Linked DNA regions of Homo sapiens. The protein of the gene in region 1 purifies or fractionates together with the protein of each later gene. This does not show direct contact. Each region holds a gene or a part of one and is shown in the gene's direction. Other genes may lie near its edges. The genes, in order: ZSCAN29, ABAT and EHD2.

Region 1 (3,369 bases):
TCAATAAATGTATTGTTTAGAAAGTCTTCCAATAGTGAGATTCATCTACTATTCTGTGTCCAGTTAGCTTAGGAAATTCACTTTAGGATTTATGCCACTGTTTGTTCCTTGTTTTTCCTGATCTAGACTCAAATCCCCAAGGCAGTCTAAAGAATGAAAGGAAGATTTCAGTCCCTCTCTTTGCCTGCATCTGAATTGATGGATAACATCTTTTCCCTCTCAGTGCCTATGGTGTTCCCTTAATATAAGCACAGAGGACAAGGTAATAGATCCTATGAATTTGATAAGCATCCTTCTTTACTCATTCTGTCATTCAGCTGCATTTTGACAGGAAAAACCCATTACATTTCGAGAAGAAGTTATGAGACTTTGCCCATTAGGTGGGTCTAGCTCTTTTTTTTTTTTTTGGAGACGGAGTTTTGCTCTTGTTGCCCAGGCTGGAGTGCAATGGCACGATCTCAGCTCACTGCAACCTCTGCTTCCCGGGTTCAAGTGATTCTCCTGCCTCAGCCTCCCAAGTGGCTGGAATTACAAGCATGCGCCACCATGCCCAGCTAATTTTATATTTTTAGTAGAGATGGGGTTTCTCCATGTTGGGCAGGCTGGTCTCAAACTCCCGACCTCAGGTGATCTGCCTGCCTCGGCCTCCCAAAGTGCTGGGATTACAGGCATGAGCCACTGCGCCGGGCTTTTTTTTTTCGAGATGGAGTCTCACTCTGTCGTCCAGGCTGGAGTGCAGTGGCATGATCTCAGCTCACTGCAACCTCTGCCTTCTGGGTTCAAACAATTTTCCTGCCTCAGCCTCCTGAGTAGCTGGGATTACAGCCACCTGCCACCATACCAGGCTAAATTTTGCATTTTTAGTAGAGATGGGGTTTCACCATGTTGGCCAGGCTGGTTTTGAATTGACCTCATGATCTGCCTGCCTAGGTCTCCCAAAGTGCTGGGATTACAGGTGTGAGCCACTGCACCCGGCCCAGCTCTTCTTTATACAATAATGGAAATGCTAAAATGAATGACTCTTCCTGCTCACTTAAACCTGTGCTCAAAATGACATATTTGTCAGGCACCCTCTTCATTTACCTTAAAGAAGGAGAGTTTAATGTCCATCTTGGTTCTGCCCTATGAATCATCTTGTCAAGAACAGGTGTTCTTATGCAGAAACAATGAAAACCTTATACTGAAGTGTGAACCCTGGATTTCTTAGTTTCTTCTGAGTCCTAGAAGAAGGGTTGGAATAGAATAATACATTTACAGGATTTAGGTTGGTTTTCTTTCTGTCCAGTCTCATCTGAATTTCGTCTGTCTCTTGTGGTCCAGAAGTTCCACAGAGCAACGCAGCTGCATGTGGTGACAGGTAGAGCAGTTAAAGCTGCCAATAGGAACTCGTCCATATTCCACACACCTGGTATAGTGTTATGCCCTCCATGGGCACTTACCTGCAATAAGCAGAAGCCACTGCCACATTCCCGTGTATTGGGAAAATGGACTACTGTGTGCGAACAGGCCCTTTACCCTAATGGCAGGGAAGATGGATTATCTTTGGCCAGTGGAGCTGCCAATCTAGACATACACATTCAACTGAATACAATTAAAAGCAGTTCTTTAAATGCAAATATAATTACTCATCTTTATAATACAATAGTATTAACTGCCCATATGCTCATAGTATGATGAGCCCTGTATAGCACAAGGTCAACAGGTCCTCTCCTTGTCCTTACAATCTAAAGCAGATGACACTGACATGGACAAACAAGTGCACATGCATAGTTGCGGCAGTTTTAGAGAAATCTAGAAAGCTAGGTAGCAACACTATGCATAAATGTTGTGGTCCAATGCATTAGTTTGCTTTAACAAAAATCTGGGAGGTATTTTTTCTCTTTATTCAGGAAGGCTTCATGAAGCAGGAAGTGGTCAAAGGAGGGAAGGTTACTGGTTAAATTATGATAGGAAGAACTTTCCATAACTAGTTGCAAAATTGAGTGCTGGGTGGGTTGAGGAATGGGAAAAAGGGGGAGCAAGGTGTTTTGTGTAGATGGAACAAAGGGCAAAGGATAGACTGTAAGGAAGGCCAGATAAAGCTTGGAGTAGCATGAGAACTTGAGGAATAGTATGATATGGGCTGTGCAGCAGGCAGAGAGAATCACCTTAGCTGAAACATGGGTGTTAGGAGCAGACCATGAGGTGGTAGAACCATCATCTATAGTAAATCAGGTACTACGCTATAACTATTGATAAGGAAACAGCTGACTGCCACTGAAAGAATAAGCAGTTTTAGGGGACTAGCTCCTATGGGAGATAAAGGTCAGAAATCGTAGTATCTGATGAAGATATTTTGATGAGCAGGTGAGAAGAAAGATAAACATGGCCAGATGGCCAAGGACTGGGATAAGTAGCCGTTTCACATTCAATTAGAATTCTGTGGCTGGAATAAGATCAGGGAGAGCAGTAGGAAGATATAGTATTCTATAATTCATAGCTTGTTGTGTTAGAGATTAATTAGGATTCTGCTGTTGAATCTTAGTACAAAAAAATCTAATATTTATTAGGAATTAAGGGAAGATGGTACTTCTGTTATGTTGCCTAAGCAGACAGGAAGCTACAAGAAACACCAGTCTGAAGCAGTGCCTCAGGATCTCAGATGATTTAGGAAGTGTGCTGTAATGTCAAAAAAAAAAAAAAGTATTGTCTTTAGTATATCTATGTATAGTCTCGTGGGAAAAGCATTGGTTGTGGTATCAACAGATATTCTGGTTCCAGATGTCTTGTAAGTTAACCTGCCTCCATTTCCCTTTCTGTAAAGCAAAATAATGTTTACACCTAATCTGTCTCTCAGGGATACCATATTAATAAAAATCATGTCTATAAAGTGCCTGGTGTTTCTTGAAGTGTTTATGTGTGTGTGTGTATATATATACACAAATTACGATCAAGTTATGGAGGGCAGGAAAAGACCAATCTTTCTTTTTTTAACTCCTTGTGTGGGTTTACTAGAAGTATGCTTATCTGAATCTTTATATTCTAGAAAGAGGAATAAGTCAGATTGTGGTAAAAGGGAAATTAGAATGCAAATCCTTCCTTTGTACCTCTATCCATATCCACAATAAATTAGGACCCAAGATAACTGGGCATGCAGAGTCTTATTTTTTAAATTTTTATTTATTTTTTAGAGATAGGATCTCACTCTGTTGCCCAGGCTGGAGTGCAGTGGTGCCATCATAGGTCACTGCAGCTTCAAATTCCTGGGCTCAAGTGATCCCCAGCCTCCCCAATAGATGAGACTACAGGCATGAGCCACTATACTCAGCTAATTTTTTAAAGTTTTGTATTGATGAGGGGTCTACGTTGTCCAGGCTGGTCTTGAACTCC
Region 2 (11,914 bases), on another chromosome or scaffold:
ATCCCATCCTTCTCCACCTCACCCCAACTCCACTCCCACACCTGGCTGCCCCACCTATTTCACATCCTCTCACCTTTCCTCACCCACCCTGGCCAAGGTAAGACTAGAGGGGGTTCAGCGAGATTTAGTAAGACTGGAGCTCTTAAAACTGGGATCTGGGGCCTAGAGGCCCTTCCAGGAGTCTTCAAACTCTGACAACAGAGATGGCCTCTGAGGCAGCAGGACCAGCAGAGACCACCCGCCACCTCTCCCCCGCTCCCTGCCCCAACACACGCACAAAGGCTGTGTTCAATGCATTCTCTCTTGCAGTCTGGGAGGACAGCTGGCCCTCTTCCAAGAGGGCCCGCATTTCCCCCCTAAAGTGTGCACCCCCGCAAGCGCCTGTGGACATTGCCTGGTGGAATTCCCTGGGCACTCAGCCAAGAGAAATGGGTGCTGCTGGGCCCATCCACTGGGGAGGAGACAGTGTTGGCTTTGCTGCTTTGATGAAGCTAGACTAAGGGACAGGATGTTGGTGACCTGGGGGTGGGGAGGGGGTGGGAAGAGCTCTTCTCTGGTGGGTCAGGTTGGGAGGCAGGAGAGAGGGAGGCAGTGAGTTGTGTCTTGCTCTTTGGAGCCTGTGTTGCGGCGTGGAGTCATAGAGAAATGTGTTTTCTCGAGGCCCAAAGAGGTTAGCCACGGGGAGAGGTAAATGGTCCAGTCTGGAGTCCTAAGACCTAAAAGGGCTTCTGCATTAAAGACGTGGCCCCTTCATTTGACAGTTAAACACACAGAGGCACAAAAGGGGAAGAGACTTGCTCAAGGTCACCCAGCCTGTGGGAGACAGCTGGCCCCAACCCCTCCAGGACCCTTAAGGTGCTAGGATCCCTGACACAAGCCCCAGTCCTCACATTTACAATGGGGACTTGGGGACTGCTGGGTCCCAAGTCCCCACTTGTCAGAGGAAGCGCCAAGGCTCTGCAAAGGTCATGAAGCCAGGAAGGGGCAGAGCTGGAACTCAATGCCATCCCCCAGCAGGCTGCCTCGTGGAATCCATTCCTGGGTGTCAGCGCATCCCTGCTTACCCCGTGCGATCTTTGTGTTGAGGCCATTGCCAAATCTAGGCTTGCCAAAATCCAAACTGACCCAGGATAGCTAATAAGATCAGTTGCAGCTAATGAGAATGAGATGCTGGAGTGGAGGCTACTGCAGGAACCTCACTTGCATAGCTGGGTTTGCTCCAAGAACTTTGGACAGGTCCTGAGGATGTCATATTCCTTCCCTCCAAGGTCCCCTCCCTCTTAGCCCCTGCCCACGCCCTCTGGCTTTGAGTTCCCTGCACATTGTCTCATCTCTGTTCAGAGGCCTGCGTCTTTTCTCCTGGGGCATTGCATGGGAAAAGAGCTGAAATTCTGGCAGATTCTCTAGGACCACCCAGCTGGGCAGCATGGTCTGAAGTAGAGGCTCTCTCTGTTTCTGCCCCCACCCAGTTCCCAGCTAAAGGATTGGTTGTTGTGCCCCAACTTTGCCAAGGCGAAGTTCAAAGCATGAGGAGGACCACGGTAGAGAGGCCGAGAGGTTGGTCCCTGGAGACCTCTTATCTGGGTCGAGAGCACAAATCTGCCACTTAGTGTCTGATCTTAACCTCTCTGTGACATATCCTTGGGGTAAAATGAGTTAATCCTCATAAAATGTTTAGCACACAGCAAAATGAGCAGAAACAATGATTACAAGTGCAAAGTCATAAAACCTCTAATCATGAAGTGGGGAGGTGCTTATGCCTTAAGGCAAAACTTGTAACCCTTGCCGTAGATAATCTGCCAGGGCCAAGGTGCCTGGGGACAAGGGGATGTCTTCCTAGAGAGACAGTGTAGTATGTGGAATGGACCACAGACCCTGAAGCCAGATGGAGTAGAGAGTTGGCCACTGGTAGTGGCTGTCTATGGAAACTTAGGCAAGTCATTCATGTCTCTGAACCTCAGTTCCTCGTCTTTGAATGAGGTTTGTTGGGGTTGGACATCAGAAAAGAGACAGGTCTAGATGAGGGGTTCTCATTTTGGGCACTGTTGACAGTTGGGTCAGAGGATTCTTTGTTGTGGGACTCCCCTGTGTATTGTAGGATATTCAGCAGCGCCTCTGGTCTCTACCCACTAGATGCCAGTGACACTCCCTACCCCATGAGTCATGTCCATCAGAAATGTCTGCAGACATTGCCAGATGTGCCCTGGGGAGCAAAATCATCCTTTTCCTTCGCTATTGAGAACTGCTGGTCTAATACATGGCCTTAAACATAGTTGATACTTAATATAAAACAGCTTCCTAGCTGAGGCGGGTGGATGGCTTGAGCCCAGGAGTTTGAGACCAGCGTGGGCAACATGGCAAAACCCCATCTCTGTAAAATACAGGAAAAAAAAAATCAGCTGGTCATGGTGGCATGCGCCTGTAGTCCTAGCAACCTGGGAGGCTGAGGTGGGGGGATTGCTTGAGCCCGGGGAGGTCGAAGCTGCAGTGAGCCATGATCACACCACTGCATTCCAGCCTGGGTGACAGAGTGAGACACTGTCTCCAAAAAAAAACAAAATAAAAACCAAAAACAGCTTCTTTCTTGCACAAGCTCCTCGTTTTGGTTTCTGTGTAATGAGGAGAAGGAGATGTGTCTAGCTGTGGAGCCTTCCAATATTAATAACAATTTTTAATTTCTCACATTTACACAAGACTTTCTTGTCTGGTTTTTGTTTTTCTCTTTAGTAGAGACAGAGTCGGGTGGTCTCTAACTCCTAGGCTTAAGCGATCCTCCCGCCTTGGCTTCCCAAAGCACTGGGGTTACAAGTGTGAGTTACAACCAAAGCGCTGGGGTTACAAGTGTGAGTTACAGGAATAAGCCACAGCACCCAACCTACACAGGACCTTATCATCTCCAAAGCACTGTTGTGTCTATGACACTGTTTCTCACTCTACAGATAAGCAAACTAAGCCTCACAAAGGTTAAAAGACTTGTCTAAGACCATCACCCGCTTCTCCACCAGGCATCAGAGAAACATCCATGCCAGAAATTGTTTGAGAAACAACTGAGTTCTGGGCCTTCTTCAGATTAGTTATCAGGGTCTTTCGAAACTTCAATGGCATGCTCTTTGGTCCAGCAATCCCACTTTGAAAAATCTCACACAGAAATGCTCACACTTGCACTGACATAACATAAAAATGTCCATGGCAGAGCTTGCAACACTGGTATGGGAAGGGATTACAGTATATGCATTCATGTGGGAGAATGAGTAGATTTTAGATGAATGAGGTGGATCCACATTCCTGACCTTGAAAGGTTCCTGAGTCATATTATTTAGTGAAAAAGATAAAGTCACAGAATCAACATAGCCAGTATGATCCTATTTTTTTTTAAATGTAAATATGCATGAACATGGATAGTTAGGGAAGTGGGGAATTAAAAGGACCTAGATAGTATGTATGTATGAGAACATATTCCTGGGGGAAGAAGAAGAAAATAAATCTCCGCCAGCTTCCCATGCATTAAAAATGAGCAAAGTGGGCTGGCCACCTTGTCTCACGTCTGCGATCCCAGCACTTTGGGAGGCTGAGGCGGCAGAATCACTTGAGCCCAGGAGTTTGAGGCTGCAGTGAGTTGTGAGTGAGCCACTGCACTCCAACCTGGGCAACAAAGGGACACTGTAAATAATTAATCATAAGATAAAAATTAAAATGAATAGAGCACAACCCACAGAGGTTGAGAGACTTGCTAACACCAGAAGTTGCCAGTGGTGAAATTCAGCTTTGAGTTTGCTGATAGTTACGGGGCCAAGAGACAGGAATCTGAGGCTCATCTCAGCAGGCCAAGCCTCCTTCCTTACTGTGGGGAAATTCCTTCTCTGAGCACCTAGAGGGATCCTGGTGTCAGACTGACCTCACCTGAATCAGGCTTCCACCCACGTGATGACCTCAGGCCAGCCACTTTAACTCTCAGTGCCTCATTTCTCTAACTTTAAAATAGCTAAAAGGCAAAGGAAAAAACATGAAAGCCAAAAAAAAAAAAAAAGGTAGAAGGAGGAGGCAATAGTAGAACCTCTCTCATTGGGCCGCTGTGAGGATTACATAAAACCATGTGTTCCGACCCCCAGTACTTAGTAGGTGCTTAATTAACACGAGCCCTGGTCTCTCCTGCCTTTTTCTCTGCTTGCCTGCTCCTTGCCAGGATGCAGAAGACAAAAGCCTCAGAAAGGACAGTGGGGGCTCCTGAGGCCCCAAGAATGCTTAGCAGGCTGAATCAGTTGTCCTCACTTCTTCACTTTGCCCTCTGATCCACCATGACCACTCTGCTGCAGGAGCTTTTAACAGAAAGCCTGGGAGAGCATTCTGAGGGGGTCTGTGCTATAGCTCTTCCTCCCTGGGGTCTAACCATCCTTGCTTTCTCTAGACACTCCACACATTAAACTGTCTTGCCCGTTGCAGGGATGGGATGGCATCATGTGGCCTCTAATTACACATCCCTTCAATAATAAGATTGACTCTCCAAGGGCAAGTTTTCCTCCTCCTTCAAAAGCTATCTCACATTGCGTCTTTTACAGGTAGTCTTCCCCGACCCTCCCCCACCTCCAGCCAGGAAAACCATTTCTCCTCCTCCCAACTCCTGTCATCCACATCCTAGACTTCCTGGGTCTGCCACATCCTATTCTTCCTGGGTCCATCACATCCTAGATTTCTTGGGTCCATCACTGTTTGCTGGATTTCTTCCCAATCCATAATTGCCTGGAAGCAGCCATCACATCCATCACATTTATTCTTGTGTCTTAAATGCATAGCACACTTCCCTATGCACACAGTAGATATTCAAGGAGCATTGACTGAATGCAGAAAAGTATTTTTTAAATTGGGGTAAAATACACATAACATGAAATTGACCATTTTCATCATTTTATTTTTATGTATTTTTTTGGGGGGCAGGGGGAATCTTGCTCTGTCACCCAGGCTGGAGTGCAGTGGTGTGATCTCGGCTTACTGCAACCTCTGCCTCCTGGGTTCAGGCAATTCTGACTCAGCCTCCCAAGTAGCTGGGATTACATGTGTGGGCCACAACCACGCCCGGCTAATTTTTTTGTATTTTTAGTAGAGACGGGGTTTCACCATGTTGGCCAGGCTGGTCTTGAACTACTGACCTCAAGTGATCCGCCTGCCTCGGCTTCCCAAAGTGCTGGGATTACTGGCATGAGCCACTGCGCCCGACCTCCATTTTTTGATTATTATCATTGGGGTCACTGTGGCAGGTGTGAAGCAATACCACATTGTGGTTTTGATTTGCATTTCCCTAATGACTGATGGCATTGAGCATCTTATGTGTTTGTTGCTTATTTGTATATTATCTTCAGAGAAATGTCTACTCAAGTTCTTTGCCCATTTTTGAATTGAGTTGTCTTTTTGTCTTTTTGTTCTTGAGCTGTAAGAGTTCTTCTTTTCTCTTTTTCTTTTTCTTTTTATTTATCTATTTTTTTTTTTGAGACAGAGTCTCACCCTGTCTGTCACCCAAGCTGGAGTGCAGTGGCATGATCATAGCTTACTGCAGCCTTGACTTCCCAAGCTCAAACAATCCTTCTGCCTCAGTCTTCCAAGTAACTGGCACAACAGGTGCCACCACACCTGGCTAATTTTTTAAAAAGCATTTTTTTGTTGTTGTTGAGATGGAGTCTCCCTATGTAGCCCAGGCTGGTTTTGAACTCCTAGGATCAAGCGATTCTCCCACCTCGGCCTCCCAAAGTGCTGGGATTACAAGTGTGAACTGCCTCGCCTGGCCCAGAGTTCTTTATATAAATAAATGTTTCTTTGTGTCACTATTTCTTCATCCACTTAAATATTTGCTCAGCTCCTGTAGGTCACACACTATCTTGTGATCCTGGGAATACCACCAGTTCCTGCCTATCAGGAACTCACAGTCTACTGCAAAGTTTCTCAGCCTCTACACTTTTTTTTTTTTTTTTGAGAGGGAGTCTTGCTCTGTTGCCCAGGCTGGAGTGCAGTGGCATGATCATGTTTACCTGGAACCTATGAATAGGACCTAATTTGGAAATAGAGACTTTGCAGAAATAGTTAGGTTGAAATGAGGTCTTTCTGCATTAGAGTGGCCCCTAATCCAATGACTGCTATCTTTTTTTTTTTTTTTTTTGAGATGGAGTCTTGCTCTGTTGCCCAGGCTGGGGTGCAGTGGTGCAATCTCAGCTCACTGCAACTTCTGCCTCCCGGGTTCAAGCGATTCTCCTGCCTCAGCATCCTGAGTAGCTGGGATTACAGGCACCCGCCACCACACTCAGCTAATTTTTGTATTTTTAGTGGAGACAGGGTTTCACCATGTTGGCCAGGCTGGTCTTGAACTTGTGACCTCAGGTGATCCACCCGCCTCGGCCTCCCAAAGTGCTGGGATTACAGGCTGAGCCACCTCTCCTGGCCCACCTCTATACTACTGACGTGGAAGCGAGGCTGTCCTGTGCCGGATGTTTAGCAGCATTCTTGGCCTCCACCCACCAGACGCTGGCAACATACCTTCCTCCACGTTGTGACAGCCAGAAATGTCTCCAGGCATTATGAAGTGTCCCCTGGGGAACAAGATTGCCCCTGGTTGAGAATCACCGGTTAGAGGCTAAGACAGCCGTGTATATCTATAATTTCAATCAGATTGCTTGTGCCTAACAGGATACACACACACACACACACACACACACACACACACACACACAGAGGAGGCATTCAGGATGTATTTGTTGGATGTTGGATGGCTGGGGGTGTAGATGGATGCATGGATGGACAGACACAACCCCTTTGTTGGTTGGCTAGATTGATGGATACATGTGTGAATGAATGGATGAATAAATGAATCCAATTTACAAATTCCACTGTGGGAAAACAGAACGCTATTCTTCCAACCAGAGTAGCCTGCCCCTTTATCTCTGTCTAGCACAGTGTTTTTCAAACTTTAGCATCAGAATCCCCTCAAGAGCTTGTTAAAACACAGATTGATGCCCCTGCCCACCAGAATTATGATTTAGTAGAATCACCGGCGGCCAGAATGCTCCCAACTCTATTTCCATGTTCTCTAGGAATCCTGGACCAGCCCCCGACCCCTGCCAACCTTGTCCTTGTCCAGAGGTCCCGTAATCTTCACTGCCAGCATCTCCCATTTAGGTGCTAACATCTATTATCTTGGATATCAGCAACTTGCCAGCACTCTGTCCCTGGGCTGCACTGAGAATTCCTTCAAAGGTGGGACCCACTGTATTCTAGTACCTTACTACTGAAAGTGTGGTCCAGCGGCCAGCAGCATTGCATCTTCTAGGAGCTAGCTAGAAATGCAGAATCTTGGGCCCCACCCAGAACTACAGAATGTGAATCTGCGTTTTAACAATATCCCCTGGGGTGATTTGTGTGCACTTTTAAGTTTGAGAAGCGTATTTTAGACAGATCTGTAAACCCCACACTCAGAGCTAAGCTAGGGATAGCTTTGCTGATAAGTTACATTGACAGCATCTGTTACCATGTAATTGGTGCCTGAGCTGAAGCATCTTTCAGGCATTACTGGCCATTTGTACCTTTGCCTGACGTTATCTCTTGAAATGTCTACACTGGCCTCGCTTTACCCGTGGGAAACCAGAAGCCCAGAGGAGCAGTGCCTTGCCCAAGGTCACACGATGACCATGAAAGCAGAGTGGAGATCACTCTCCACTCCTTAAAGGGAATGGGATCAAGAGGATTGAAATGCTGTATCCACTGAGCAGGGCGGCACATGCCTGTAGTCCCAGCTACTCGGGAGGCTGAGGCAAGAGGATTGCTTGAACCCAGGAGTTCTGGGCCGTACTGTACTATACCAGTCAGGTGTCTGCATTAGTTCGGCATCAATATGGTGACCTCCTGGGAGTGGAGGACCACCAGCTTGCCTAAGAAGGGGTGAACCAGCCCAGGTCAGAAACAGAGCAGGTCAAAACTCCTGTGCTGATCGGTAGTGGAATTATGCCTGTAAATAGCTACTGCACTCCAGCCTGGGCAACATAGTGGAACCCTGTTTCTAAAAAAAAAAAAGAGAGAGAGAGAGAGAGAAAAGAACTGAAATGCTGCTATGATACTGAAAATATGGGGTGTAGGGGGAGCATTCTGAAGCTACTTAGGTCTGTCCTCTGAAACTGGAGAAAGGGGAGATGACTTGAAAGTGATGCAAGAACAAGAACTTAAGTTGTATTCTTTTGTTCATCCAACCAGTGTTTATTGAGTACTTACTAGACTCCAGGCATGGTTGTCTGGTATCTATAGTATTGAACAAGAAAAGCCAGGCCTCCCTTTTGATGGCTTATCTGGAGTGGACAGACGTAGCCATCTGGCATTCATTCGTCAATGAGTGTGTTCATTTATTGCATGATTTCCATGTGCTGTGTACAGTAGTAGGGGTGTGTGCGTGTCTATGTGTCTGTGTGTGTGAGAGAGACAGAGAGAGAGAGAGAGATGGAGGGAGAGACAAAGACTCAGCTACTACACCAGCGCCTCTTCTAGACTAGCCATGCGGAAACAGGCCCCAAAACAAGGACCACACAGTGAGGAGAGTGCCGAAGGTGTGTGGGAGTGAATACAGGTTCAAGCTCAAAGTAAAAAGAGGTTACCACTCCCTGTTCCTGGGGATTCTAGGGAAGAAATTTCAGGAGGAAAAGGCAGAAAAGAAGAGAAAGAGACTCTGTGCAGGGAGAGCATCATGAACAGGCCCAGAGAGTTCATAGGAAGCCGTTCCAAGAAAATCGCAGGGGAAAAAGGAAGGATAGACAGCGTATGGTGGCTCGCACCTGCAATCCCAGCGCTTTGAGAGGCCGAGGTGGGTGGATCACTTGAACCCAGGAGTTCAAGACCAGCCTGGCCAACATGGCCAAACCCCGCCTCTACAAAAAATACTAAAATTAGCCGGGCATGGTGATGCATGCTTGTAGTCCCAACTACTCAGGAAGCTGAGGCAGGAAGATTACTTGAGCCCAGGAGTTTGAGACCAGCCTGGGCAACATAGCAAGACCCCTCAAGACCCCTTCTCTACAAAAAATTTTAAAAATTAGCCAGGTGTGGTAATGTGCACCTGTAGTCCCAGCTACTCAGGAGGCTGAGGCAGGAGGGTCGCTTGAGTCAAGGAGGCCGAGCCAGGCTGCACTGAGCCATAATCATGCCACTGCACTCCAGCGTGGACAACAGAGTGAGATCCTGTCTCAAAAAAAAAAAAAAAAAGGTGGAGGGTAAAATCATGAATCTCATACAGATACAAAAACACTCAATGATTTTATTAGGCTCATTCAATGAGGGAACCAGGCAGACATTAGAACCAGTTCAAAGGAAAAGTCAAATAAAGCACAAATATGTAAAGAGTAAAGGGAGGTCTAAATAGATTCAAAACAGAGGCAAACATGGTTGGACAAGGCAGAATTTGCTTGTCTATCAGTTTTCTACAACTTACAAAGGAGTCAGCAAAGTAGTTTGAAAATAATGAACAAGGCCAGGCATGGTGGTTCATGCCTGCAATCCTAGCACTTTGGGAGGCCGAGGTGGACAGATTGCTTGAGCTCAGGAGTTCGAGACCACCTTGGGCAACATGGTGAAACCCTGTCTCTACCAAAAATACAAAAAATTGGTCAAGCATGGTGGTGCGTGCCTATAGTGCCAACTACTCGGGAGGCTGAGGCACAAGAATCACTTGAGCCTGGGAAGGGGAGGTTGCAGTGAGCCAGGATCACGCCATTGCACTCCAGCTTGAGCAATGGAGACCCTGTCTCAAAATAACAATAATAATGAACAAGTGAACAAGGCTAGAATCAGATAATCCAAAAATTTGTGTTGTAAGTAGGTAGTGCATAACTCTTTTTCTATAAAAACAATGTTACGCCGGGTGTGGTGGCTCTCGCCTGTAATCCAGCACTTTGGGAGGCCGAGGCAGGCAGATTGCCTGAGCTCAGGAGTTCGCGACCAACTTGGGCAACACAGCGAAACCCTGTCTCTGCTAAAAATACAAAAAAAAAAATTAGCCTGGCGTGGCAGCCTGCGCCTGTAGTCCCAACTACTTGGGAGGCTGAGGCAGGAGAATCGCTTGAACCCGGGAGGCGGAGGTTGCAGTGAGCCAAGATTACGCCACTGCACTCCAGCCTGGGCAACAGAGCAAAACCCTGTCTCAAAACAAAAACAAAAAAACAAACAACAGCAACATCGAAAAAACAAAAAAACAAAAAACCAATGTTCAAGTGATGGAGAGGCATGGGTGGATGAGGAGTGGCAAGAGGAGGCTGTAGGAAGAGTAGATCATGTCCCGCCAGGTGACCCATGATCTTGAATTTGGACTTGACTCAGAGACCCATAGGGAACCATGGAAGAGATTAAAGCAAGGCAGTGATGTGATTTTGTTATCACTTGAGAAAGATCCTCCTGGAAGCTGAATGGAGAGTAGACAGACACCTTCTCCCACTAGCCTTTGAGCTCAGATTTCCTTAGGGAAACAGCCAATCCCAGGGGCAGATTGCTGACCTTCCTGCAAAAGGTTTTAGAACGTGGAAGCTCCTTCAGGGCAAGGTTGGCTGAACACCAGCCAAAAGAGCAAGGCACCACCCCGGCAGGACAGGGCTGTTTTGTGCACGGGAACAAAGCCTGCCTCCTCTCTCTGCCCAGAGCTGTAAATAGCACTCTGCTGGCTTCGCAGGCTGAGCGCCGGTCTGGGGACAGGCTGAAAATGCACACACCAAGGAGCATTTGTGCAAATGAATGCCTGCATGCAAATTTGCATGCCTGGCATCCTGCCCCAGCCCTAAGTGTCCAGTCCTGCAAGGGGCTGGAAGCAGGGCTCAAAAAAGAGCCACACACAGAAGAGTGTGGACATTCTGACCTGGGGACAGGTTCCAGGAGGGATTCAGAGGCAGGCTGGCAGGGTGAGTGGGAGAAAACATGCAGAGAACCCTGGACAGAGTTTTGGCTCCAGCTTTACCCATGATAATGACAATGACCCATGAGTAGTAGCCACTCACATTGGCTGTGTATTTGTGTGTAGTTGCTCACCTTGTCGCTCACAACAGCCCTATGAGGAAAGGCTGATCAGATTTCAGAGACAGGAAATGGAAACTCAGAAAGGATGACTGACTCGCCCAGGGTCTCCTACTGAAGGGAGCATTTCTAGTGAGAAACCGAGGCTTGAAGACTCTGGAGCCCTGGTGTCTAGGACTGACCCACATGGACGCCTCTGCATATGCCCACTGCTGGCTCTGACCTCAGTTTACTCCTCCATCAAAGGGTGCAATAATGTCTTTGCACCTAATGATCACAGCAGAGTTTGGGAAATGAACTACCCCTGCAAATGAGAAAGACTTGAAAAGTCATCAATGCTGAATATGAACTGATGGTATGTGGAGAAAGTCTGAAAGTGCTTTCCTTAGCCCCAGAGACAGGGTGTGGAGTGCAAGGCCAACCTTGTTTGTACTCAGGGGCTTTGGAAGTGCAGAGTGGCCTTGGATGGGTGGAGGTGAAGGCATGCTGAAGCTTGCTGAACCACTCCCGGATCATAGGTGAGCCAGGTTGGGTCTAGTCTGTTTTTTTTCCCTTGAGAGGAAGAGATGGTGGGTGCATTGTGGAGAGAGAGGGAAACAGTGACCCTGAGGTGGGGACGCACATCTGGACGGAAAGTGTTTGCCGAGAGCACTTGGCCGCCTGCCCTCCCACGGAGCAGGTGCTAGTCTTGGGTCCCGCTCTTCCGGGTTCTTCAGAAGCTGAGCTCCGGTCTGTAATCCCAGCACTTTGGGAGGCTGAGGCGGGCGAATCACGAGGTCAGGAGATGGAGACCATCCTGGTCAACACGGTGAAACCCCGTCTCTACTACAAATACAAAAAAAATTAGCTGGGTGTTGTGGCGCATGCCTGTAATCCCAGCCACACGGGAGGCTGA
Region 3 (11,914 bases), on another chromosome or scaffold:
CTCAGACGGCTCCGGACGGGACCGCGAGCACAGGCCGCTCCGCGGGCGCTTCGGATCCTCGCGGGACCCCACCCTCTCCCAGCCTGCCCAGCCCGCTGCAGCCGCCAGCGCGCCCCGTCGGTGAGTGCTCCCAGCACCGCAGCTGTCGCCTCCCGACCCCCGCCCAAGCCTGCCCTGGTTCCTCATGCCTGACCCCTGCTCCCTGCCACCCTGTCCCCAGTCTGTAACGGTCTCCCCAGGTGTCCCCCAGTCTTCACCAGTCCCCCCAGTCTGTAACCATGTCCCCCACTCTTCCCACTCCTCCCACTCTTCCTCCCACTCTTCCTCCAGTCTTTCGCAGCCTCTCACACTCCCCCAGTCTCCTCCATCCTCCCCCAACACCCCTCCCTATCCCCTGGGCTAGAAGAGATCCTCTCTGCAGGGTCTCCCTCCACGCCCTCATCCATATCAGCTAACTTGGTCCCTCCAGCCACTCAAGAGCCCCTCTCCTGCCTCACCAGCTCCATCGGCCACCGCTGATAGCATTCTCCCCAGCTCTCTCTCAGGGCCCTCCCTGCCTGGGACACCGCCCAGAGCCCTCTCCCTCTGCCCACATCCCAGATCCTGCCTCTCTTTTCCATTCTTGCCACTCCTTTACGAACTCCTTTTGCTTTTATCTCCCCTACTCCCTGGCCACCCCTTTTAAGTCTCATGATTTTATGGATTTTAGCATATTTGATTTGCAGTTATTTTGATGCTCAAATTGCCCCATGTTTGGCCACTGGGCACCCCTGCAAGCTGGGTCCTCTGTCCCTGTAACATGCCCTATCGGCCTTTGAGCACTTCCTCACCTTCTGACCCAGGCTCACTTGTTCTTCCCTGCCCCCGCCCTGGAATCCACCATTTCTCTAAGGAGTCCCAGGTTCTTTTAGTGGGGAATGGTATTTAGAGACTCCCATCTCACCAAAAGTTGATTCTTTGAAAAGATCAGTAAAATCATAAGCATCAACGGGGAGCAATCGTTTTTGTTTTTCTTTTTTAAAAAAAGCAAATACCCACACCTGTGGCTGATATCGGGAATGAAAGAGGGGACATCACTACAGATCCTACGGTGAATAAAAGGCTAGTAAGGGAAGATAGAGAACACAGTCTGGGTGCTGGAGGTGCTCATTGCTCCTGGGTTGGTCATGGCTAACCTCCCTAACTCAGATCTTTAGACCTATAATAGGATTGCAACCTCTGAGGTCAGGCTGCCTGTGTTTGAGTCCCAGCTTGAGCATTTTCCAGCTAAGTGATCTTGGGTAATTTATTGCTGTCTTCCTGAGCCTCCTTTGCCTTGTTAAAAAAGCAGAGATGAGCCGGCATGGTGGCACACACCTGTAATCCCAACAATTTGGGAGGCTGAGGTGGGTGGATCACCTGAGCTCAGGAGTTCGAGACCACCCAGGGCAACATGGTGAAACCCATCTCTACTAAAAATACAAAAAAAAATTAACTGGGTGTGGTGGTGCATGCCTCTAGTCCCAACTACTTGGGAGGCTGAGGCAGGAGAATCCCTTGAGCCCCAGAGGTGAAGGCTGCAGTGAGCTGAGATTGTATCACTGCACTCCAGCTTGGGCTACAGAGTGAGACTCCATCTCCAAATAAATAAATAAATAAATAAATAAATAAATAAATAAATAAAAAGAAAGAAAAGCAAAGCAAAGCAGGGATGATAATAGACCTACTTTACAGGGTTATAAATGTTAAGTGAGTTAGTACAGTACCTGGCATGCAGTGATCATAAATGTTGCATTATTTTTCTTGTTAACACCCAACAGCCCTCATGACCTGGGTGCACCCAGGCAACCTTCTCAGCTCCATTTCTCACCCCTCCTCTTTGTGCCCCTGTGTCTGGCCACCTACCCAGATGTTTCATGGCTCCCAGTACACCAGGACCTTTCACATCCCCAGACCTTTGCACGCACCGTCCTCTCTGCCTAAATCCCCTTGTCTTGCCTGCTCTTCATGGAGCAGCTCAAAAGTCAACCCTGCCCTGAGTCTTACTGGTGCTGTGGTCTGTTTCTCATGCCCTCCTCTGGATGTCTGGCATGTGTCTGGGTCCTTACTGGGGGCCCTGGGTGGGTAGGGGATGATCTCTGGCTCATTTCTGGGTCCACAGTGCCTGAAGCATGGAGTGAGTGATTTCAGTGAAAAGGTGTCAAATGATGGAAGGGAGAAGGGAGGAAGAAATGAATGAAGCGATTAAGGAATCCGTTTCTTCCAGGCAGCTTCTGCATCCTTCGCCTTGTCCATCTCTTGGTCTTCCACTACCACCATCAATCCCCCTTCTTCAACCATGTCACCATTAATCTTTCTCCTCCTTCAGCTGGTTCGCTACGATCTCCCTATTTTTTTTGAAATGGAGTGTCGCTCTGTCAAGTGCAGTGGCGGGATCTCGGCTCACTGCAACCTCTGCCTCCTGGGTTCAAGTGATTCTCCTGTCTCAGCCTCCCAAGTAGCTGGGACTACAGGTGGCCACCACCAGGCCTGGCTAATTTTTTGTATGTTTAGTAGAGACAGGATTGCACCATATTGGTCAGGCTGGTCTCAAACTCCTGACCTCAGGTGGTCCACCTGCCTCAGCCTCCCGAAGTGCTGGGATTACAGGCATGAGCCACTGTGCCTGGCCTTTTTTTTTTTTTTTTTTTTTGAGATGGGGTCTTACTCTGTAGCCCAGGCTGGAGTGCAGCGGCATGATCATAGCTCACTGCAGCCTGCAGCCTTGAACTCCTGAGCTCAAGCAATCCTCCTGCCTCAGCCTCCCAAAGTGCTAGGACTACAGGCATGCACCACCATGCCCAGCTAATTATTTTTTTTGTAGAGATGGGGGTCTCACTATTTTACCCAGGCTGGTCTTCAACTACTGACCTCAAGCAATCCTCCTACCTCAGCCTCCCAAAATACTAGGATTACAGGTGTGAGCCATCGCGCCTGGCCCAATTCCATTCTTCCTCCTGCCACCTGCCATCCATGCTCTGTGACCACATATTTGTGACCACAAATATCTGTGCTCCTCCTCCTCCTCCACCCATCCTGTCACCCAGACAGTCTACACTCAGACCCCTTTCTTCCTCCTTGGCTGGGCCGCCTATGCTCATGCCCTCTCCCCCTCCCACAGGCAGCTCTCCATCTGCACGTCTCTCCGTGAACCCCGTGAGCGGTGTGCAGCCACCATGTTCAGCTGGCTGAAGCGGGGCGGGGCACGGGGCCAGCAGCCCGAGGCCATCCGCACGGTGACCTCGGCCCTCAAGGAGCTGTACCGCACGAAGCTGCTGCCGCTGGAGGAGCACTACCGCTTTGGGGCCTTCCACTCGCCGGCCCTGGAGGACGCAGACTTCGACGGCAAGCCCATGGTGCTGGTGGCCGGCCAGTACAGCACGGGCAAGACCAGCTTCATCCAGTACCTGCTGGAGCAGGAGGTGCCCGGCTCCCGCGTGGGGCCTGAGCCCACCACCGACTGCTTTGTGGCCGTCATGCACGGGGACACTGAGGGCACCGTGCCCGGCAACGCCCTCGTCGTGGACCCGGACAAGCCCTTCCGCAAACTCAACCCTTTCGGAAACACCTTCCTCAACAGGTGTGCCAGCCGCGAGCCCAGGGCGCATCTTTCTTTTTCTTTTTGTTAAGACAGAGTTTCCGCTCTTTTCGCCCAGGCTGGAGTGCAGTGGTGCGATCTCAGCTCATGGCAACCTCCACCTCCTGGGTTCAAGCAATTCTCCTGCCTCAGCCACCTGAGTAGCTGGGATTACAGACACCCACCACCACGCCAAGCGAGTTTTTGTATTATTAGGTACAGTTGGGGTTTCACCATGTTGGCCTGGCTGGTCTTGAACTCCTGGCCTCAAGTGATCCACCTGCCTCAGCCTCCCAAAGTGTTGGGATTACACGAGTGAGCCACTGCGCCCGGCCCTGGGGGCACGTCTTTCTGTCCCAGGGGTGCATCTTGCTGTCCCCCTTCTCTGTCCCCTCCCTGACTGTGTTTCCCTCCTTCTCAGCCCCAATTCCCTTCTCTCTACCCAGTTCTTCCCATGCCTGTCTCTGCTCTCTTATCCAGGGGAGCACCTAGGCTAGTGAAGTCAGTATGCCTGGTTCAAATCCCGGCCAGCTGGGTGGCCTCAGGCAAATGACTTGACCTCTCTGCCCTTCTTGTAGCCTCATCTGCAAAAATGTGGATCAATCACCTTGGGCCAGGCCCGGTGGCTCACACCTGTAATCCCAGCGCTTTGGGAGGCCAAGGCAGGTAGATCACTTGAGGCCAGGAGTTGGAGACCAGCCTGGCCAACATGGTGAAACCCCGTCTCTACCAAAAACACAAAAAATTAGCTGGGTGTGGTGGTTCGTGCCTGTAATCCCAGCTACTCGGGAGGCTGAGGCAGAAGAATTGCTTAAACCTGGGAGGCGGAGGTTGCAGTAAGCCGAGACCGTGCCACTGCATTCCAGCCTGGGCAACAGAGCGAGACTCTGTCTAAAAAAAAAAAAAAAAAAAAAGGGATCAGGATCACCATGGTCTCTATGCCATGGTTGCTGTGAGGACTTGGAATAGCACCTGGTGGCCGGGCGCAGTGTCTCACGCCTGTAATCCCAGCACTTTGGGAGGCTGAGGCGGGCAGATCACTTGAGGCCAGAAGTTTGAGACCAGCCTGGCCAACATGGTGAAACCCCGTCTCTACTAAAAATACAAAAATTAGCTGGGTGAGGTGGTGCCCACCTGTAATCCCAGCTACTCGGGAGGCTTAGGCAGGAGAATCACTTGAACTCGGGAGGCGGAGGTTGCAGTGAGCTGAGATAGTGCCATTGCACTCCAGCCTGGGCGACAACAGCAAAACTCTGTCTCAAAAAAAAAAAAAAAAAAAAGAACAGTACCTGGCACAAATTAAGTGCTCACTGAACATGAGCTGTGGCTGGTTATAACTCTGAGATGGTCCTGGTTGCCCTTTTTCTGTCCGGTGTCTTTCTTCGCCCATAAAGGATGCTTTGCCATGCGGTCCCGAGTCCCTCTTCATGTTTTCTTCGTGTTTTCCCTCCTTCTGTCCTTCCCTGTTGACCCCTGACCCTCCCTCTGCCCCCAGGTTCATGTGTGCCCAGCTCCCTAATCAGGTCCTGGAGAGCATCAGCATCATCGACACCCCGGGTATCCTGTCGGGTGCCAAGCAGAGAGTGAGCCGCGGTGAGTGGGGCCAGACCCTGGGGTCTGAGGGAGGAGGGGCTGGGGCCTGGACTCCTGGGTCTGAGGGAGGAGGGACTGGGCCCGGACTCCTGGGTCTGAGGGAGGAGGGGCTGGGGTCTGGACTCCTGGGTCTGAGGGAGGAGGGGCTGGGGTCTGGACTCCTGGATCTGAGGGAGGAGGGGCTGGGCCCAGACTCCTGGGTCTGAGGGAGGAGGGGCTGGGGGCCTGGACTCCTGGGTCTGAGGGAGGAGGGACTGGGGTCTGGACTCCTGGGTCTGAGGGAGGAGGAGCTGGGGCCTGGACTCCTGGGTCTGAGGGAGAGGGGCTGGGCCTGGACTCCTGGGTCTGAGGTAGGAGGGCCTGGGGTCTGGACTCCTGGGTCTAGAGGAGGAGGGGCGGTGTCTCCGCTGGGACTTGGGCCTGTGTCCTCTGGCCCTGGCTGGCGGGGCAGCCGCAGGGAGCTAGTGGAAGCTGTGACTGCTCCATGCTGGCTCGCATTGATGGGTGGGGGAGGTGTGTGGGTGACCACGTGGTGGGAGCGGGCAGGAGCCGCACGTCTGGGCAGGCAGGAAGGATGGGAAGGGAGAGATGAAGAGGGACAGGGATTCCGAGGCAGTGAGACAGCGACGCAGGGAGACACAAGGCCTGGAGATGAGGCAGAGCCTGGGCAGGGGAGGCAGAGCCCGGGCAGGGGAGGCTGGGCCCTGCGAGCTCCTGGCTCTGCGTCTGGGCCACAGATGGGGCCGAGAAGGGGATGGGAAGGGAATCTGGGTGGGGGCCAAGGCCAGGCCTGGAATTTATAAACAGCTGTGCAAGGAGAGTGGCGGGGGGTGGATTCCAGCCGGGGCCTCCGGGCGTGCTGAGCCCTCACCACCCCTGCCCAGCCCAGCTCAGCATCTGTGGTCCCCCAGCCCCACAGATCTGTGTCCCCCACCCCCCATGGCCTTGGAGGCCCAGAACTGGGGCAAAGGAGGCTGCTATGTGGGGCAGAGAGGATGGGAGGCCCTGGCGAGAAGGCTGGGCCTGGGGTGGGGTGGGGACGCTGGGGGTGACCATGTCTCTGGCTGCCGTCCAGAGGCCCCACGGGAGAAAGGCAGGAGGCAGCTGCAGAAACGATTGGGAGGACACGCTGCCAGCTGAGGGGGAGGAATTCCTGGGGCTCCCACCCCAGGGCCTGGACCTGGGACAGCGGGAGGGAGAGGCTCTCTCAGCCAGGGCAGGGGTGCCGGCAGGGGGGTTCAAAGGCCATGGGTGGTGGGGGAGTGGGGAACGGGGTCTCCCTCCCTGGCCTTGAGGATAGAGGAAGAGGAGGAGAGAGTGTCCAGCTGTTGGTGTGTATATGTGTGTGTGTGTGTGTGTGTGTGACTTTGTGTATATCTTGGGAAAGTGTGTCATTATGAGTGTACTCCTGGGTGTGGTGGTTCCACGCATTTGTGTATAGCAGTGGACGTGCCTCATTGTGGCCATGGCTCTGAGGTTGTATGACTTTGAATTGTGTACATGCCTCTGTGTGTGTGTGTGTGTGTGCGCATGTGCCTATAATTGTGGCTGGAAGACTTTGTTTTGTTTGTTTTTGAGACAGAGTCTCACTCTGTCGCCCAGGCTGGAGTGGAGTGGCGCGATCTCGGCTCACTGCAACCTTTGCCTCCCGAGTTCAAGTGGCTCTGCTGCCTCAGCCTCCTGAGTAGCCAGGACTACAGGCGCCCGCCGCACCCATGTCCGGCTAATTTTTGTATTTTTTTTTAGTAGAGACGGGATTTCACCATGTTGGCCAGGCTGGTCTCGAACTCCTGACCTCAGGTGATCCTCCTGCCTTGGCCTCCCAAAGTGCTGGGATTACAGGTGTGAGCCACCATGCCCGGCCTGCTGGATGACTTTGTGTGACTCTGAAGGGCTGTGTAGGGCTATGAGAGACTTTGTGGGATAGTGTGCAACTGATTCTGTCCCTATATACTGTTATATTGTGACGTGTGTGTGTGAGAGAGACAGACATAAAGGGCAACTTTTGTCTATGTGTCTATGTGGATTTAGTGTGTATCATTGTAGGTGTGAGTCTGACATTGTGTGCCTGTGTGTGAGATGGTCTAGGCATATATGTGTATCTGGGCTGTGGGCTGTGTGTGACTTTGTGTGGCTGCATGGGGCGGTCAGGGCTGCGGGGATTTTGTGGGACTGTGTGTGACTACCTGTGATTGTATCTCCGGATACAGTTGTGTGCTTCTGTGTGGTGTTGTGTATGTGAGAATGTGTGTGTGTGCAGGAGTGCATCTTTTGTGTAACTGTGTGTGATTACGTCTGTGTGTGTGCCTTTGGATTTGGGAGGGCATGGGAGGTTATGTGTGTGCGACTGTGTCTGTGTGGGTGTGCATGCATGTGTGCCTCTGTACCTGTGTGTTCGTGCAGGTCTCTGTGTCTATGCCGTGTGTGCATCTCACATTATCTTTGTGATTGTGTGACCACAAACATCTGTGTAGGTCCCAGATTGTGAACACGGGTATGTCTGGGAGCCTGCATCTTGTAGTAATTGGCTATGTTTGTGTCTGGATGTGCTACTGGGGGTGTGTGTGTGTGTGTGTGTGTGTGTGTGTGTATGCGAGCTCATGTGTGTGGCTGCCTCTGCATGTAAGATGTGTGAACACACGCATGTGTGATTGTAGCATAGTAAAGCCCTCAAATCTGGGCTCTGCTACTTTTATTTATTTATGTTATGCTACTTTTTTTTTTTTGAGATGGAGTCTTACTCTGTCTTCCAGGCTGGAGTGCAGTGGTGCGACCTCGGCTCGCTGCAACCTCCGCCTCCTGGGTTCAAGCAATTCTCTGCCTCAGCCTCCGGAGTAGCTGGGATTACAGGCGCCTGCCACCATGCCCGGCTAATTTTTTTGTATTTTTAGTAGAGACGGGGTTTCGCCGTCTTAGCCAGGCAGGTCTTGAACTCCTGACCTCGTGATCCACCCACCTCGGCCTCCCAAAGTGTTGGGATTACAGGCATGAGCCACCGCCCAGCCTATTTTCTGCTGCTTTTAAACTGTGGGACCTTAGGCAAGCCACTTAACCTCTCTTTGCCTCAGTTTTCTTACCTGCAAAATGGGAATAATGGGCTGGGCGCAGTGGTTCACGCCTGTAATCCCAGCAGTTTGAGAGGCCAAGGTGGGCAGATTACCTGAGGTCAGGAGTTCGAGACCAGCCTGGGCAACATGGTGAAACCCTGTCTATACTAAAAATACAAAAATTAGCTGGGTGTGGTGGTGCTTGCCTGTAATCCCACCTACTCGGGAGGCTGAGGCAGAAGAATTGCTTGAACCCAGGAGGTGGAGGTTGCAGTGAGCCGAGCTCATGACACTGCACTCCAGCCTGGGCGATAGAGTGAGACTTGGTCTCAAAAATAAACAAACAGAAAAACAAAACACACACACACACACACACACACACACACACACACACACACACACACTGGGAATAATAATACTAGCGGCCTCATAGTTGTCCTAAAGGTTAAATTAGTTAAAACATACAAAGCACTTAGAAGGTGCACACTTGTGTGTGCACACAGTAGGCGCTATGGAAGTGCCAACAATGCCTGTTTTCGCTGGGTGAGTGCCGTTGTGGGCCCAAGGTTCCTTTTTGCCACGTCTCCCATCCCACACTGACTCAACCTCTCTCCCTTCTTCCCTCCCCGCCCCATGAGACACACTTTCCGAATCTGGGCCAGTATGTGTGTTTGTGGAGACACCGGGAGGGAGGGGGGGCTCCAGTTGCTGTCCCTCCAGTGACTTGGCCCTTCCTCCCCCAAAACAACGGCCCCCAACCCCATCCCGGTCCCTGCGTTGCCCGCAAGGAGGCTGCTTCCTCTCAGGCAGGATGGGTGCAAGCACCAGCTCCCCGGAGGAGCATAGGGGCCCATGGGACTCCTCTTCTGTCGCCTCTTACCTGTGTGTCTTGAGTAAGTCCCCTAACTTCTCTCTCTTTTTTTTTTTTTGAGACGGAGTTTCGCTCTTGTTGCCCAGGCTGGAGTGCAGTGGCAGGACCTTGGCTCACTGCAACCTCCGCCTCCTGGGTTCAAGTGATTCTCCTGCCTCAGCCTCCCGAATAGCTGGGATTACAGGTGCCCACCACCACACCCAGCTAATTTTTTTGTATTTTTAGTGGAGACGGGGTTTCACTATGTTGGTCAGGCTGGTCTCGAACTCCTGACCTCAGGTGATCCACCCGCCTCAGCCTCCCAAAGTGCTGGGATTGCAGGCGTGAGCCACCACGCCTAGCTAGTCCCCTAACTTCTCTGTGCCTCAGTTTCCTCATCTGGAAAATGGGGTCAGAACAGTGCCCACCTCCTGGGGTTGTTGTGAAGAGTCACTGAGTGAGCTCTAGCTGGAGGGCATGAAGTCAGTAAATCAGGGCTAGCTCCTTGTTCTGCCAGTTAACTCTTCGTCCTCCGGGTTCCCACTCTGCCTTCCCTCCTCCTGGAAGTCCTCCTTGACCCCCAGGCTGGGGGTTGGGTCAGGCACTGGCCCTGGGCTCCCACAGCTCCCTGGATCCCCCTGCCCACCCTGGGCTGACCACTCAGGGGCCAGGTCTGTGTCCCCAGTGGGCTGAGAGATGTAAGGACAAAGCTGAAACTGCCTCAGCCTCCACACACACAGCAGGGACCACAGAGGGTGCTTCCCAGTGGGTGACATCACCATGACTTGCTGAGTGCTTACCGTACATCCAGCACTGTTTTTAAAAAAACAGTTTCATTGAGGATTAACGTACACGCCATAAAAACTCAACCATTATGGCCGGGCTCAGTGGCTCATGCCTGTAATCTCAGCACTTTGGGAGGCTGAGGTGGGCGGATAATGAGGTCAAGAGATGGAGACCATCCTGGCCAACATGGTGAAAACCCATCTCTACTAAAAATACAGAAATTAGCTGGGTGTGGTGGCACCTGTAATCCCAGCTACTCGGGAGGCTGAGGCAGGAGAATTGCTTGAACTCGAGAGGCAGAGGTTGCAGTGACCTGAGATCGCGCCACTGCACTCCAACCTGGGCGACAGCGAGACTCCGTCTGAAAAAAAAAAAAAAAAAAAAGCTCAACCATTTTTTTTTTTAAAGAGACAAGGTCTTGCTCTGTCTGCAGGCTGGAGTGCAATGACGCAATCATGGCTCACTGCAGCCTCCAACTGCTGGGCTCAAGTGATCCTCTTGCTTCCTCCTCCTGAGTAGCTGAGACTACAGATGCATGCCAACATGTGTGGATAATTTTTTATTTTATTTTTTTCTGTAGAGACAGGGTCTTGTCATCTTGCCCAGGCTGGTCTCAAACTCCCAGGCTCAAGCGATCCTCCTGCCTCTACCTCCCAAAGTGCTGGGATTACAGGTGTGAGCCACTCTGTCTGGCCACTTCCATCATTTTTAAATGTACAGTTCAATGCCAGGCATTATTTTAAGCTCTTTATATATATTAGCTCATTTATATTCTTTTAATCTTCACAACAGTCTTTTTTTTTTTTTGAGACAGAGTCTCACTCTGTCGCCCAGACTGGAGTGCAGTGATGCTATCTCGGCTCACTGCAACCTCTGCCTCCCAGGCTCAAGCGATTCTCGTGCCTCAGCCTTCTGAATATGTGGGACCATAGGCATGAGCCACCAACACCGGGCTAATTTTTTTGTATTTTTAGGGCTAGGCTGGTCTTGAACTCCTGGCCTCAATTGATCTGCCCACTTCAGCCTCCCAAAGTGCTGGGATTACAGGTTTGAGCCATCACACCTGGCTTCACAACAGTCCTATGATTTGCATTTTACAGAAAAGAAAACACAAGTTCAGAGAGGTTAAGCTACTTGCCTAAGGTCACACAGTGGATGGGGGCAGAGGAGGGACTCAACTCCAGGTCTTCCAGACAGCTAAGTCAGGGGGTCTCAATCGCTTCTCTCTGCTCTCCTCAGCATTGCTTGTTGGTGAATAAATGAGTGAAGAAGCAAAGGTGAGAATGAGTGGATGAAGGAGTGAATGAGGAAATGAATGGTGAAAGGAATGAATGAATGAGCATGGGAACCCATGGCTGGGATGGGTGCTTCATAAGAGCAAGAATCTTGTCTGTGTGTTCTCTGCGGTATCCCAGGCTCCCAGGACAGGGCTTGGCACACATGAGACTCTCAGTAAGTATTGCTAAATAAATGCAAAATATTTAACTTCTCAGCCTGGCCAACATGGTGAAACCCCGTCTCTACTAAAAATACAGAAATTAGCCAGGGTGGTGGTGCATGCCTGTAATCCCAGCTACTCGGGAGGCTGAGGCAGGAGAATTGCTTGAACCTGGGAGGTGGAGGTGGAGGTTGCAGTGAGCCACATTCATGCCACTGCACTCCAGCCTGGGCGACAGAGTGAGACTCTGTCTCAAAAAAAAAAAAAAAAAAAAAAAAAAAAAAAAAAAAAATTATCATCTGCTATGGCAAGAGCACAGCTATCCAGCATGAACTCTAGTTGCTGGATCGTGGGGAGATACAACAGGTCCTGGGGAGGAGCTGGGGTGATAGAGGCATGTGGCAGGCTTGGGGGTTCCATAGAAGCACAGGGGGATCTCTTAGCAAACATGTCAGTATTTTTAACAACCTATATGTACATACCGACGCACACCTGTAATAACTGCTTAATGAATGAGCAAATGAAAAAATGGAGGCCGTGAGGCTGGGCGCGGTGGCCCACGCCTGTAATCCCAACATTTTGGAGGCTGAGGCAGGAGGATCAGT

Evidence for each region.
Region 2: the proteins of ZSCAN29 (region 1) and ABAT purify together in Homo sapiens (affinity purification with mass spectrometry; 2 studies listed by BioGRID and IntAct, with this or other methods). This does not show direct contact.
Region 3: the proteins of ZSCAN29 (region 1) and EHD2 purify together in Homo sapiens (affinity purification with mass spectrometry; 2 studies listed by BioGRID and IntAct, with this or other methods). This does not show direct contact.

Annotation. Positions count from the first base shown.
Region 1 is NC_000015.10:43,357,675-43,361,043, reverse strand, and holds the end of ZSCAN29 (zinc finger and SCAN domain-containing protein 29), read left to right. Parts: 3' UTR 1-2,869; downstream 2,870-3,369. UniProt on the Homo sapiens protein: May be involved in transcriptional regulation.
Region 2 is NC_000016.10:8,675,515-8,687,428, forward strand, and holds part of ABAT (4-aminobutyrate aminotransferase, mitochondrial isoform 1 precursor), read left to right. Parts: intron 1-7,744; exon of another isoform or gene 7,745-8,037; intron 8,038-11,914. UniProt on the Homo sapiens protein: Catalyzes the conversion of gamma-aminobutyrate and L-beta-aminoisobutyrate to succinate semialdehyde and methylmalonate semialdehyde, respectively. Can also convert delta-aminovalerate and beta-alanine.
Region 3 is NC_000019.10:47,713,419-47,725,332, forward strand, and holds the start of EHD2 (EH domain-containing protein 2), read left to right. Parts: upstream 1-3; 5' UTR 4-120; intron 121-3,139; 5' UTR 3,140-3,194; coding exon 3,195-3,598; intron 3,599-5,090; coding exon 5,091-5,188; intron 5,189-11,914. UniProt on the Homo sapiens protein: ATP- and membrane-binding protein that controls membrane reorganization/tubulation upon ATP hydrolysis. Plays a role in membrane trafficking between the plasma membrane and endosomes. Important for the internalization of GLUT4.